Linked DNA regions of Homo sapiens. The protein of the gene in region 3 purifies or fractionates together with the protein of the main gene of each other region. This does not show direct contact. Each region holds a gene or a part of one and is shown on either strand. Other genes may lie near its edges.

The links.
Region 1: the proteins of STX18 (region 3) and RINT1 purify together in Homo sapiens (co-immunoprecipitation; 7 studies listed by BioGRID and IntAct, with this or other methods). This does not show direct contact.
Region 2: the proteins of STX18 (region 3) and NAPA purify together in Homo sapiens (affinity purification with mass spectrometry; 4 studies listed by BioGRID and IntAct, with this or other methods). This does not show direct contact.
Region 4: the proteins of STX18 (region 3) and SCFD2 purify together in Homo sapiens (co-immunoprecipitation; 4 studies listed by BioGRID and IntAct, with this or other methods). This does not show direct contact.

Annotation. Positions count from the first base shown.
Region 1 is NC_000007.14:105,563,201-105,565,688, reverse strand, and holds part of RINT1 (RAD50-interacting protein 1), read right to left. Parts: intron 1,957-2,488; coding exon 1,742-1,956; intron 566-1,741; exon of another isoform or gene 413-565; coding exon 232-412; exon of another isoform or gene 160-231; coding exon 41-159; intron 1-40. Other genes in the region: EFCAB10 (EF-hand calcium-binding domain-containing protein 10), read left to right, coding at 74-140. UniProt on the Homo sapiens protein: Involved in regulation of membrane traffic between the Golgi and the endoplasmic reticulum (ER); the function is proposed to depend on its association in the NRZ complex which is believed to play a role in SNARE assembly at the ER.
Region 2 is NC_000019.10:47,491,064-47,494,563, forward strand, and holds part of NAPA (alpha-soluble NSF attachment protein), read right to left. Parts: intron 2,539-3,500; exon of another isoform or gene 2,431-2,538; coding exon 2,353-2,430; intron 2,112-2,352; coding exon 2,056-2,111; intron 1,983-2,055; coding exon 1,898-1,982; intron 1,057-1,897; coding exon 952-1,056; intron 1-951. UniProt on the Homo sapiens protein: Required for vesicular transport between the endoplasmic reticulum and the Golgi apparatus. Together with GNA12 promotes CDH5 localization to plasma membrane.
Region 3 is NC_000004.12:4,458,549-4,462,048, forward strand, and holds part of STX18 (syntaxin-18), read right to left. Parts: intron 3,425-3,500; exon of another isoform or gene 3,358-3,424; intron 940-3,357; coding exon 824-939; intron 1-823. UniProt on the Homo sapiens protein: Syntaxin that may be involved in targeting and fusion of Golgi-derived retrograde transport vesicles with the ER.
Region 4 is NC_000004.12:53,275,562-53,279,061, forward strand, and holds part of SCFD2 (sec1 family domain-containing protein 2), read right to left. Parts: intron 1-3,500. UniProt on the Homo sapiens protein: May be involved in protein transport.

The DNA.
Region 1 (2,488 bases), on a different chromosome or scaffold from region 3:
ATTTGATACATTAATATTAATTGTTAAATGTTGAGCTTACTGTTTAAAATAATTTTCTGGTCTCTTGCAATAGTGAGAAAACAAAGGGAAAAGATTCCGAGTCATATCAAACTGCAGCTGGGCTGCTCCTCCTTCATTGAAGTGATTAGCAAGAATTATCTGAAACAAAGAATAATTCATATAACAGTTGTCTTTATTATCACAGCCCAAAAACAGTCTATTCTTACTTACTTCTTGGTAGATGTATACATCCAGCTTCTCTACAAGCATTTGCCAGAAAATTTTAAATAAGGAGAAACAAAGCTGCTGCTCCAACTGAAGTAAATGGTCTCGTAACGTCAGCAGCAACGGGCAAGCCGAACTGGACAGGGACATCACTGCCTGCTCTGACTGAGATGGCAAGGACAACCATCTGGAAAAAACACATTTTTACCAAAAAATTTTCATCAGTTTCTATTTTTCAAGTTTTTAAATCATTTTAAATTTGAGGAAGTGTTCTGTCCTAGGGCATTTTGGATAAGAAAAAATATACAGCCTAACATTAAAAGCTCTATCAGAAAATAAATGTACCTGTATTTATATTTTCACTCTCAAATACTCTTTAATATGGGGATATATCCAAAATATCCCCAAATTTTAATATGTGAATTACTGATATAAGGCAATTACAATTTAAAATGTCACTTAATTTTTGCATTTTATTTATGTAGTTTTTCTTTTTTTTTGAGACAGAGTCTCGCTCTGTTGGCCAGGCTAGAGCCACAGGGTTCAAGCAATTCTCGTGTCAGCCTCCCAAGTAGCTGGGATTACAGGTGCCCACCACCACGCCCAGCTAATCTTTGAATTTTTTAGTAGAGACAGGGTTTCGCCATGTTGGCCAGGCTAGTTTCGAATTGCTGCCCTCAAGTAATCTGCCCGCCTTGGCCTCCCAAAGTGCTGGGATTACAGGTGTGAGCCACTGCACCCAGCCTGATTTTAGCATTTTAATTAAGACATCAGCTAATATTATCCTCTAATTTTTAGTAAAAACAGGACTAATAAACGAATTTTAAGCACTCTGTGTGGCAGGGACTATGCTAGGACAAAAAGATACTGCTTGCTATCAAGGATGAAAGTAACACAGGTGTTCACAGTGAATGGTAGTGGGATAAACCACAACAAAAGTATGCAGAGTACCACAGGTGCACTTTACTTTGCAAAATGGGAGACAGGTTAGGCTATTCAACCCCAGATCACACACTATCCTATTGATATATTTACAAACAACTAAATTATAATCAGTTTATTCTGATTAAGAATGTCAGCCAGGTGTGGTGGCTCACACCTGTAATCCTAGCACTTTGGGAGGCCGAGGCAGGTGGCTTGCCTGAGGTCAGGAGTTGGAGATCAGCCTGCCCAAAATGTGAAACCACATCTCTACTAAAAATACAAAAATTAGCCTTGTGTGGTGGTGCATGCCTGTAGTCCTGGCTACTTGGGAGGCTGAGGTGGGAAGGTCACTTGAACCTCTAAGGCAGAGGTTGCAATGAGCCAAGATCGTGCAACTGCACTCCAGCCTGGGTGACAGAGTAGGACTGTCTCAAAAAAAATGTCCAAGAGAACATACTTTAGAAATATTTCCATCAACAATAAAGTACATAAGGCCAAACCGGGTTCTATCTAGACACCTTGAAAATCTGACCACATATTCTTTAACTTTTACCAAACTGGTGTTAAGAGCTGACTTACATAGAGGACATACCTTTCTTTTTTATACAATTTTGCAGCATCTTTAACTTCTCTAAAAACGTGGTCTACTTGACGGGTCAACATATCATGCTTTAAACGTTCTAAGAGGTTAATCATGTCATCAAAGACAGAGCTCTCCATAGAGGCTAGCTGTCCTAGCTGCAATTTACTCAGAGTATTATTCTCTGCAAACACCTCCAGTGCAGCCTGTTGAAGTTGTAGAAAGAACTGAAAGCAAAAACATGTTAACACATTAGCATACTTTTTTTTTAACAGTTTGAAATAGAATTCATATGTCATACAATTCACCCATTTAAAGTGTATAATTCGACCGGGCACGGTGGCTCATGCCTGTAATCCCAGCACTTTGGGAGGCTGAGGTGGGTGGATCACCTGAGGTCAGGAGTTCGAAACCATCCTGGCCAACATGGTGAAACTCCAACTCTACTAAAAATACAAAAATAAGCCGGGTGTGGTGGCATGTGCCTGTAATCCTAGCTTGAACCTGGAAGGTGGAAGTTGCAGTGAGCCGAGATCATGCCTCTGCACTCCAGCCTGGGCGACAAAGTGAGACTCCATCTCAAAACTAATAATAGTGTATAATTCAATGATTTTTTTATATATTCAGTTGTATATCCATCACAATTTTAGAACATTTTCATCACCAAGAAAAAAGCCGTTATCCTCTAATACCGTCTCCCCACTCCCTCAACTCATAGGCAACCACTAATTGACTTTCTGTCTCAATGGATTTGCCTGT
Region 2 (3,500 bases), on a different chromosome or scaffold from region 3:
AGGGAGAGGTGGGTGGAGGGGGAAGGTTCCCCAGATAGGCACCCACTGCCTCCTCCCACCTGGCTCAGCTGGGGCAGGGGACAAATGAGCACATCCTCCATGCCAGGCCTGGGGCTGGTGCTTCTTGAGGACCCTGAGAGGGTCAAATGACGGTGAGCCCCCTTTTCAAAGTGAGGAAACAGATCCAGAGAGGGGCAGTGACCTGCCCAGGGCACGGTGAGACATGGGGTGGGAATGGGAACCTGGTCTGACAAAGCCCAAGCTTTTGCCCACCACCGGTGCCCACAGCAGGGCAGGGCTCTGTGGGGTGTGTGTGTGTGGGGTGTGTGGGGCCACCACCCCAGGCCGTGAGCCAGGGACACCAGGAAATCCTGGACTCCGTGCTTCTGCCAGGCAATGGTAAAAAAACTCCGGCCAAGCAAAATCTAGCGCCAACCCTCCAGCTCCTTCCCGCTGGCCACGCCCCCTCCCACTGCCCTCTTTGGCCCCTCTTTTGCCAAGTGTCCTGAAAATAGGTGGGCATGTGTGAGCTACAGCTAAAGCCACGACAGCAGGAGTCACAAAGATCTGGAACACTGGGGCTGCAGGTCCCTAGTCATGTGGCCTCAAACAAGGGACTCTCGTCCCAGCCTCACCATCTTCACCCATAAGACGCGGTGACAATGGTGCTGACTTTAATGGGGTGCAGTGAGGATTCAAAAAGTGCACCCATGAAGGAAAGAGCACTAAGTGAGGCAGGAGCTGGACCCGCAAAAGCCTCCAGGGCTGGGTGGGCAGGTGATGCCAGCACAGAAACACAGCTGTGAGAACCACACTTCTCATCCAAAGGCTGGCTGGCAGGGGCCAGACGTGAGGGAGGAGCACGTCCCTCTTCGGGGGCAACGGGACCTGGCCTGGAGATAAGCACATGGTGGCCTGGTGCGGTGGTCCTGCGGGCGTGGGGTGTGCTACCTTGGCGTTGAGCATGTCGATGCAGAAGTGGCAGAGGGCCGCCTTGAAGAAGTAGTCTTTGGCGCTGTACTTGAGGAGGGGGCTGTCCATGGCATTGGTCCCCACCTGTAGCCATGGAGAAGTGGCACTGGTGAGCTCAGGGCAAGCAGCCAGAGGGCCAGAGCCACTGCCAGGCACTGGGGGGCCAGCTGGGAGCTGGTTCATGTCCCGAGGTGAGGCCCTGTTAACCCAGGACCCCAAGGGCAGGGAGCCAGGGACCAGCTTGGAGAGGTCAGCGGCCAGTGCGTGAGCGACCAAGATCAGGGTGTGATGGTGGCTGGGTGGGGGTGGAGGCTGTAGCCAGGTGTTCGTGGGCCTTCTGAGAGCCTGAGACAGTGGGAAGGAGGCAGCCTGGCTGTCAGGACCAACGGGAGGCTGGCATGGCGGTGGGCAGAGCGGCGGCAGGCGGTGGGAACATGAGAGGCGGCGCCCGCCCCTCTCTCCCAGGGGGCCAGCTGCCTGCCTTTTTCTCGGCCATCACCCAGGGCTCCGTGCACGCTGGGGGGACCCCATGTGACACTCCCTCCCTCCCACTGTGGATGAGGACCATCGGGCCATGGGGTGGGGTGCCCACGGCCACCCTGGGCCTCTTGGCACTTCTTCCCATTCCCTCCCTCTGGGTTCTTTAGCCAGCCTCACTCTGGGCCCCTCCAGGAAGCTCTGCGAGGGGTGTGGGAGGGGCACAGCCAGGGAGAGAGACGGTGCTGGCACGGCATGGAGTCGTAGGTGGAGAACATTCAGCCAGGCTGAAGACAGGGTGGGGGGATGACATGGCAAGGGATGTCGGGGGAGAGGCAGAGGGTGAGCCGGGGGAGGGGTGGTTCCAGAACAAGGTGCCGGGGCTTAGGAGGAGGCACAGGCCCTGAGAGGGGGCAGGGTGGAAGCCGCCATCCCCACCTGTCCCCACCTGTTCGTAGATGTCAATGGCCTTCTGATACTGCTCCAGCAGCGCAGCGTAACCAGCCACCTTCAGCAGACACTTGTTGGCTGAGCTGTGTGGGGAGGAGTAGTGAGGGGAAGTGGTGGCGGTCCCTGCGGGGCTGGGGCAGGCAGGAAGGGGGCTACCTGTTGGACTCCTCGCCTTTGTAGTAGTCTGCAGACTGCTCGTAGTGGGCAATGGCCTGGGGAGACACGGGGGATGGGTTCCAGGGGAGGGCAGGGAAGGGAGAGGAGGCCTCCGTGAAGCTTCCACACCCTCCGCCCTGCCTGCCTGGGACACAGCCAGACCCCATTCTCCAAGCTCTGCCGGCGCCCCATGCCCCCTTCTCGGCACTCAGACACCAGAGGACTCCCCTGGTGGGAAGAAGAGAGAGCAGCACTGGTCCTGGCTGCCAGCCCATGCAGGGCCCTGCTGCCACTCACCTTCTCGATGTCCACCAACTCTGTCTCATAGATCTCAGCAATGGAGATGTGGTGCTTGGCCGCAATCGTGAATCGGCCCTGGAGGGGACACAGGAAGGGGCTGCCTGCGACTCATGACCTCCTGCGTGCCTGCCTGCTGACCTATGACCCTTCAAGTTCCCACCCCTCAGCCACGCCTGTGAGGAGGTATGAAGAAGACCTGAGGTGTGAAGAAGATCGAGAGGTGGGGGAACACAGGAGTGAGAAGGGAGGGCCCCAGCACTAGAGGCCTGGCTATGCGTGCTGGGCTGAGCGGGTGATGTTGGACAAGCCACTCCAGGGCCTTAGCCTAATTCCATCCCATCCACGAGGGCACAGATGGTGTGACACCAGAGAGAATGTGAGCACGAGCACTTGGCCAAGGCCCTGGCCCTTAGGAAGCCTCTGATAACAGCCAGAGAGGCGGAAGGACCAGTCCAGAGCCACTTGGCAAAGGGCTCTGGAGAAACCAGGATGGGAGGGAGGGCTTGAGACCTCTGCCCAAGAGTACCAGCTCTGCCCCCAGGCCAACACCTATCTGTCAGCCTCCCCCAGGCACACCCAGAGCTCCCCAGGGAGGCCTCAGGTTCCAAGGGGCCTCGCACCTTCCATCCGCCTCCACCCAGTGTCCAGGCGCTTGCCTAACTGCTCTGCACCAGGGGCTGGTCCAACGCCACCCCCTTGCTGAGGGCAGTAGGAAAGGGCAAGGCCCTGGGCTCAGCCAGACCTTGTTTCGGGTCTCAGTGACTCCTGCTTGTAGCCACATGTCCCTGGGCAAATCATGTCACTTGTCTGAGCCCCTCTCCTCCACTAAGGAACGGGGATGACAATAATGCCAACCTCACAGGGCTGTGGATTAAACCACCCTGCAGTGTCTGGCCTAATAAATGGCAGCTGCTATTATTGTTCTAATCACAGTCATCCCTGCAGCACTGCCCTGAACGCAAGGGGTAGGGCTCGTGTCCCTGCCTGGGGTTGGAGGGCTGAGACAGACAGGGCAAGCGGAGAGGCAAAAAGGAGCTGGCCAGGCACGGTGGCTCATGCCTGCAATCCCAGCACTTTGGGAGGCCAAGGCAGGTGGATCACTTGAGGTCAGGAGTCTGAGACCAGCCTGGCCAACATGGTGAAAC
Region 3 (3,500 bases):
TCTACTTACTATTTAATGTACTCTGTAAATGCCTAAGCAAATTAAAAAAGAATCAAGAAAGAGGCGTGACTTGGGAAGCCATCTCATTGTCTCAGTGAGAATTAAACATCAACGAAAGTGAGATAATAAGCGCTCTTGTGCCAGACACAGTTCTAAGCATGCTGTAGGAATTTAACTTAATGCTCATAACAACCCTAGAGATACATTCCCTAATTGTCTGCATTTCATAGACAAAAAAACAAGGCCCAGGGAGATTAAGTGATTTGCAGAGGGCTATATGGCTCGGACGGGTGGAGTTGGGGTGCAACCTAAGCAGCCCTGGCTCCAGAGCCTTCCTCCTAACCTTGAAGGTTTGATAGGAAAGTTTACTTGAATATTACAAGTAGAGCTTAAGTACCCCAGGCTGCTGTCAACTCCCATCCCACTAAATGCCACACAGAACAGAGGCACACATGTGCATACACACATACACACCCACACACATACAATTTGCCACACAGAACACACACACACGCACACACACACACACACACACACACACAAATTTGTCTTCACTGCCCCTGGCCCCTAGATATATTTTTGGTTCTGTTTGGAGAGGTCCTTTCCATCTCCCTCCTCTCATTGGTTTAACTTGAATGATACAGCCTTTGCAGTACTTTTAACAGCTTTGGTTAAAACATTGATCAAGAAAGAAAAGATTTTAACGTTTTAAAACCTAAATCGAAATAAGAAGAGGGAATTTTAACTGGCCGCACCATATGCATCTTGTTTAACTACTTGCTATATTCATGGTTGCTTGTTTGCATCTTTCAGAGCACTTTACCTTCTGTTCGTAGTTGCTGAATTGCTTCTGAACAGGTCCTCATGAATATCTGGGCATCCTGGTCTATCTGGTCTCGTTCTGTGTCTGTCATCCTCCCATATTCAGACATGGTATGGCTAAAAAAAGACAGCAAAGGAAAGGGCAGCAGCAAATGAGAACATAATATAGTCTGAGTGGGATGGGAAGAGAAGAAAAGGCCTCCCTGATCAGGTGACATTTAAGCTGAGACTTGAAGGGTGAGGAGGAACAGGCCAGGTGAAAAGGTGAGAGAACCATCTAGATAGATAGTAGAACACATATGAAGGGTGTGTGGTAGAAAATCCTCCGGAATAGACCCAACTGACGTAAGCCAGATGGGGAGAGGGAGAGGGAGAAGGAGCGTGGAGTCAGGGCTACAGCATAAGCCAGGCTTATAAAGAATGTAGGCTCTGCTTTTGAGAACAATGGCGCAGCTACTGAAGGGTCTCACACTACAAAATGACTGAATCAGAGGGTGGAGGGTGTTCCCTAAACATTCCAGGCACACTCCCACCTCAGGACCTTTACATGTGTTGGTTGTCTCCTCCTTCTGGAATGTTCTTTCCCCAGATAGCTGCATCAATGCATCCCTTACTTCTTTTAGGTGTTTACTCCATGTTGCCCTCTTAATGAGGCCTTCCCTAATCCTTCTTTATAAACTGTCCCCTCCCTGACATTTTCTATCCCACTTCCCTTCTTCCTTCCCCGTAAAGATACTTACCCCACTCTAACATTCCATATATTTTGTGTAATTATTTCTTTTCTTGCCTGTCTCTCCCCTCTAAAAACGTAAGTTCCACAAAGGCAAGGACTTCTGTTTGTTCACTGCTGTATCCCCATCATCAAGAGCAATGCCTAGCATTTTTAATAGGCTGATCAATTAATAAATCAGTAATAAATACTTTTGAATGAACTGAACCAATGAATGAGCCTGAGTTGGAGAATATGCTTGATACACAGCTACGACTGTGCTCCCTAGTAAGTTCCTCCTAAACCGATTTTTCCCCCCACCCCAAGACAGGTAGGCATCCCCCTCCCAAAGCCTTCTCTAGGAAACTTAAGGCACAAACAAACAGGGAATACATCCATCCTGAGGACAGGCCCTTCTAAAAAAGAAAGGGGTAAGATGAGCACGAAGTCCTTCTCACTCCCAATCACCAGATAAGCATCCTCTCCTCCCTTGGAGTCACCCCTATCCCACGGCCCCTACCCCACTTCCATATTTTCTAAGGAAGAGTTGGAAAAAGAAATCCCACAGCCTCCAGCCTCCTAGGGAATAGATGATCCTCTCTCAGTGGAACTTGAAGAGTGACATGGAATTAGTTCCTTATTCCAATGCTCCTTAGGATCTTGTTCTATTAGTTACTTAGGCTTGGGATGGCAACCATGAGAGAATGGACTCTGTCCGAGGGAAGACCCAACAGTGAGACAAAGGCGCTAAGCCAGCAAGCTCGATCCCCTCTCCCCAACCCCAGCCCACCTCCAACACCAGATGAATGGCTCCCCTCTGGGGAGGAGCCAGAGTGGCAAGCAGAGGGGCCAAAGCCTTAGGTTCATCCCTACTAGGAACCTTCTCATCGGAAATAGAGGCTAACGGGGTCAGGGACAAATGAGTCAGAAAGGTACCAACTCAGTGAATATGTACCCTGCAGACAGAACAGACCTAGAAATGACTAGTTCCAAGAACATTCGATTAACATCCTCCTACTCTATATTTTGATTTAATGGAAACTCAGCTCAGTGAAATTGAAAAGGTCTAAAGGTTAATTTGATAAAACTGATTATTTAATTAAAAGGTAATGTTCCTTTAGGAAACATTATATATATACATTAACCTTCTAAATTGAAAATTGACAGTATGGTTATTCTATTAGTAAGAACAACAGAAACCAAGGAAGTTTTTTCTCCCAGATTGTTTTGTTGCCAGGATATTGTGGAAAAAGTCCATCTACCAGAAGTGGAGACATTATTTTTAATTAAAATCATTCAGAGATCTAGCCACAGGCTATCTAGGTTACATGCTGTTCTGCTCTAGTAAAATGTCATTATTAAAAAAAAATTAAATGGGTCAATAAAGTCTGAGCTCTACATTCTGGAAAAAATTACAGCTTCCTAATTATGTCAAACTAACAAAGCCTCATAGGTCTGAAGGCAGTATTTCTACACATATTCTTTCAATTCCATGATCATACTCCACATAAAATGTTCCTAGGAGCAGGCCAAGGCTAGCACATTGCACTGGGAGGGCAGAAGAGTAAAAAAGAAAGGCTTTAAGCAGTCTACCACCTTTGGGAGGGAGAACTTGATGAGAGACAATAAGGGTGGTCTTTCTCCACCTGGACAGAACCTGGGCTACCGGGGGGAATGCTTATTCCCTAATCCTCATGTTTCTGTGGGAACCAACTTCCCCAAATGACACCTTGCCTCCTCCCAGAGCCTCCTCCCTCTGGCCCCCTCGCAGAAAGCATGGGGTGTGCATATAGTCACCACACCTTTCTCTCCTCTCTTTTACCTACTTAGAGACAGCAGAGGTTCCGCTCTGTTCCTCTCTCTCCTATGTTGCAAAGGGGCCTGTCCCTGCTGTCTGTGCTCCAGGGGCTGCGGCTGCGCAGTGGCACTAATGCCTGAGTGTGTCTAATTCAAGAGCAGAGTATCAACA
Region 4 (3,500 bases), about 49 Mb from region 3:
AGTTCTATGAATTTTGACAAATGGATATGGTTGGATAACCACTGTCACAGTCAAAATACAGAACATTCCCATCATTCCAAACAGCTCCCCTTCTTGGTAGTCCATTCACTTTCCCTAGTTCCAGCCCTGTTGGTTGATGAACCCTTATCCGTGTTTATCTGATTTCCATCTCACAGTTTTGTCTTTCTAGAGTGTCACATAAATGGAATCACATAGTATGTAGCCATTTGAGTCTGGCTTCTTTCACTGAACCATAATGTATCTGAGATTCATCCACGTTGCTGCTTGTATTAGTAGTTTGCTCTTTTTTCTTGCTGAGTGATATTTCATTGTGTGGATGTATCATAGTTTATTTAGCCATTTATTTATCTATTCACTAGTTAATGAGTATTTGGGTTGCTTTCAATTTTTTAGAAATTATGAATAAAGCCTTCACAAACATCTGTGTACAGGTCTTTGTGTGTGTGTGTGTGTGTGTGTGTATACATATGTTTCATTTTCCTTTAGGCAAATTTCTAGGAGCAGGTTTCTAGGACAGATGTTAAGTATATGCTTACTTTTAATTTTTTTTTAATTCTTAAGCTTTATTTTATCACTCTTATCAAACATATCAGAAAGCATATCAACAGTGCATCTTATGTTAAGTTTACAACAAAATTGAACAATGTAATTGTGTTTGATGAAAAAGTTTTATAGCAAAAAAGCGTACAATACAGTCCATTGAAATGCAGGGTTCATGCTTTTTAGGTACGTTAAAAAGTGGAAAATAAAAGACCTCTGCTACTCAGCAACATCAAACAAGTTTAAAAGACTTGAGTGGAAATCAGATACTTAGGGGTTTGTGAAAAAAACTTCTTGGTACTGACCCACATATACATTTATAGTTTCATTTAGTTATTTTTTTTTAATTTTTATTTTAGGTTCAGAGGTACATGTACTGGTTTGTTATATAGGTAAACTCGTGTCATGGGGATTTGTGGTACAGAATGTTTTGTCACCGAGGTACTATGCCTAGTACCCAATAGTTATTTTTTCTGATCCTCTCCTTCCTCCCACCCTCCACCCTCAAGTAAGCTCCAATATCAGCTGTTCCCCTCTTAGTGTCCATGTGTTCCCATCATTTAGCTCCCACTTATAAGTGAGAACATGCAGTATTTAGTTTAAGCACATGTTTAATTTTATAAGAAATTGGCAAACTGATTTCCAAAGTGGGCTGTACCACCAGCAACATATGAGAGTTTTAGTTGCCTTACAACTTCACCAACACTTGGTTTTGTCAGCTATTTTTATTTTAATGATTCTAACAGATGTGTAGCAGTATCTCATTGTGGTTTAAAATTTCATTTTCCTAATGACTAATGATGTTAACCACCTTTTCATGTGTGTCTTTTGCCATCCTATATCTGTTTTGGTGAAGTGTCTGGTCAAATCTTTTGCTCATTTTTTAATTAGGTTGTTTGTTTTCTTATTACTGAGTTGTGAGTGTCATTCACTTTTATTGATTCATTGATTCAACATATATTTCTGTAACAGGCACTATTCCTGTTTCTAGGAATAAACCTGTGAACAAATCCAGACAAAAACCCCTATGCTTGTAGCCAACAAATAAAGAAAACAACTCCTTGATGATCTCCTAATTAATTCAGCCTCTTACGTGTCATTCTCTCTAAAGGGATAGGGACCTTTTGTGCAAATGATTAACATTTTTAAGAAATGATATTCTCTGACATCTATTATATTAAATATGTAAGAACAAATTTTCACACAAAATGGTTTCAAAACTTAAGATTGCCATGAGCTCCATTTATTTATATAAACACTGTACTGCAGGTGATGGCAGTGTGGCTCCTAAACACATAGAACTTAGTCTATCAAGACAAACATTCATTTAATGATCATACAAATAATTACTTAATCATGATAGTGGTAAGTACTGCCAAAGAAAAATACAAAATGTCTTGAAGGTGTGAAAGGCTCTACATGATATGAAAACTGCCTACCTCTCCAACCCCATCTCCTCAACTGAAAGAAGAGGAATTAAATAGATTCAAAATATATACAATTCATTTCTTCTATAACTATGTTTTAGAGAGACTCCAGGAAACGGGAATCACCAGAGGAAGCCATCAGAGGATCTGCTCAGATTTCTATTGTAATAACCGTATGTTCATTTTAAAGATAAAAGTGTCTTTGATTAAAAAACAGTCCAGGCTCGGCGCGGTGGCTCACGCCTGTAATCGCAGCTCTTTGGGAGGCCGAGGCGGGCAGATCACGAGGTCAGGAGATGGAGACCATCCTGGCTAACACGGTGAAACCCCGTCCCTACTAAAAATGCAAAAAAATTAGTTGGGCTTGGTGGTGGGCGCCTGTAGTCCCAGCTACTCGGGAGGCTGAGGCAGGAGAATGGCGTGAACCCGGGAGGCGGAGCTTGCAGTAAGCGGAGATCCGGCCACTGCACTCTAGCCCAGGGACAGAACGAGACTCCGTCTCAAAACAAAAAACAAAAAAAAAAAAAACAGTCCTCGCCAGGCGCAGTGGCTCACGCCTGTAATCCCAGCACTTTTGGAGGCCGAGGTGGGTGGATCACTCGAGGTCCAGGGTTGGAGACCAGCCTGACCAACAAGGTGAAACCCTGTCTCTACTAAAAATTCAAATATTAGCCGGGAGTGGTGGTGGGCACCTGTAGTTCCAGCTACTCAGGAGCTGAGGCAGGAGAATCACTTGAACCCGGGAGGTGGAGTAAGCCGAGATTGCACCACTGCATTCCAGCCTGGGAGGCAGAGAGAGACTCCATCTTAAAAAAAAAAAAAAAGAAAAAAGAAAGAGAAAAATTAGCTGGGCATGGTAGTGCTCACCTATAGTCCCAGCTACTCAGGCAGCTGAGGCAGGAGAATCACTTGAACCTGGGAAGTGGCCAAGATCGTGCCACTGCACTCCAGCCTGGGCGACAGAGTGAGACTCCATCTCAAAAAAAAAAAAAAAGTCAAATTTTTTATCCAATCAGCATTTCCTAGCTGAGACCCAGACTCAGCTACCATATTTATGTAACGTCACCTTCTCATATAAGGCATATGATCTAAAGGAACAAATGGGTATATCTCCTAACAGAAAATATCAACACCACACTACCTTGTGTTCCTTGCAGATTTAGTAGTTATTCACCTTCTCTACTCTGTTCTATTCCCCTTTGTATGTCGTTTTTTACACACTCATGACACTACTCCTTCGTTAGGTATAAATCACGACAGCAGATTTTTTTTTCCTAAAAATCCCTAAGAGGCTAACTGGAATTTAAGTTAAAAAGTAATTCACACAGATGCTCTAAAAAAAAAAAAAAAAGGCCAGTGACATTTTTAAAATTTTTAAATTTAACCATAACCTTACCAAAAGCAAATGGAAATCAACTAATTGACCATCAAAAATGCTGCAGTAAGACTAACCACTGAAGTAAAATTTCTTAGTTTATATAAACTAAAACAGCAAGCAACTAGACAAGTGTT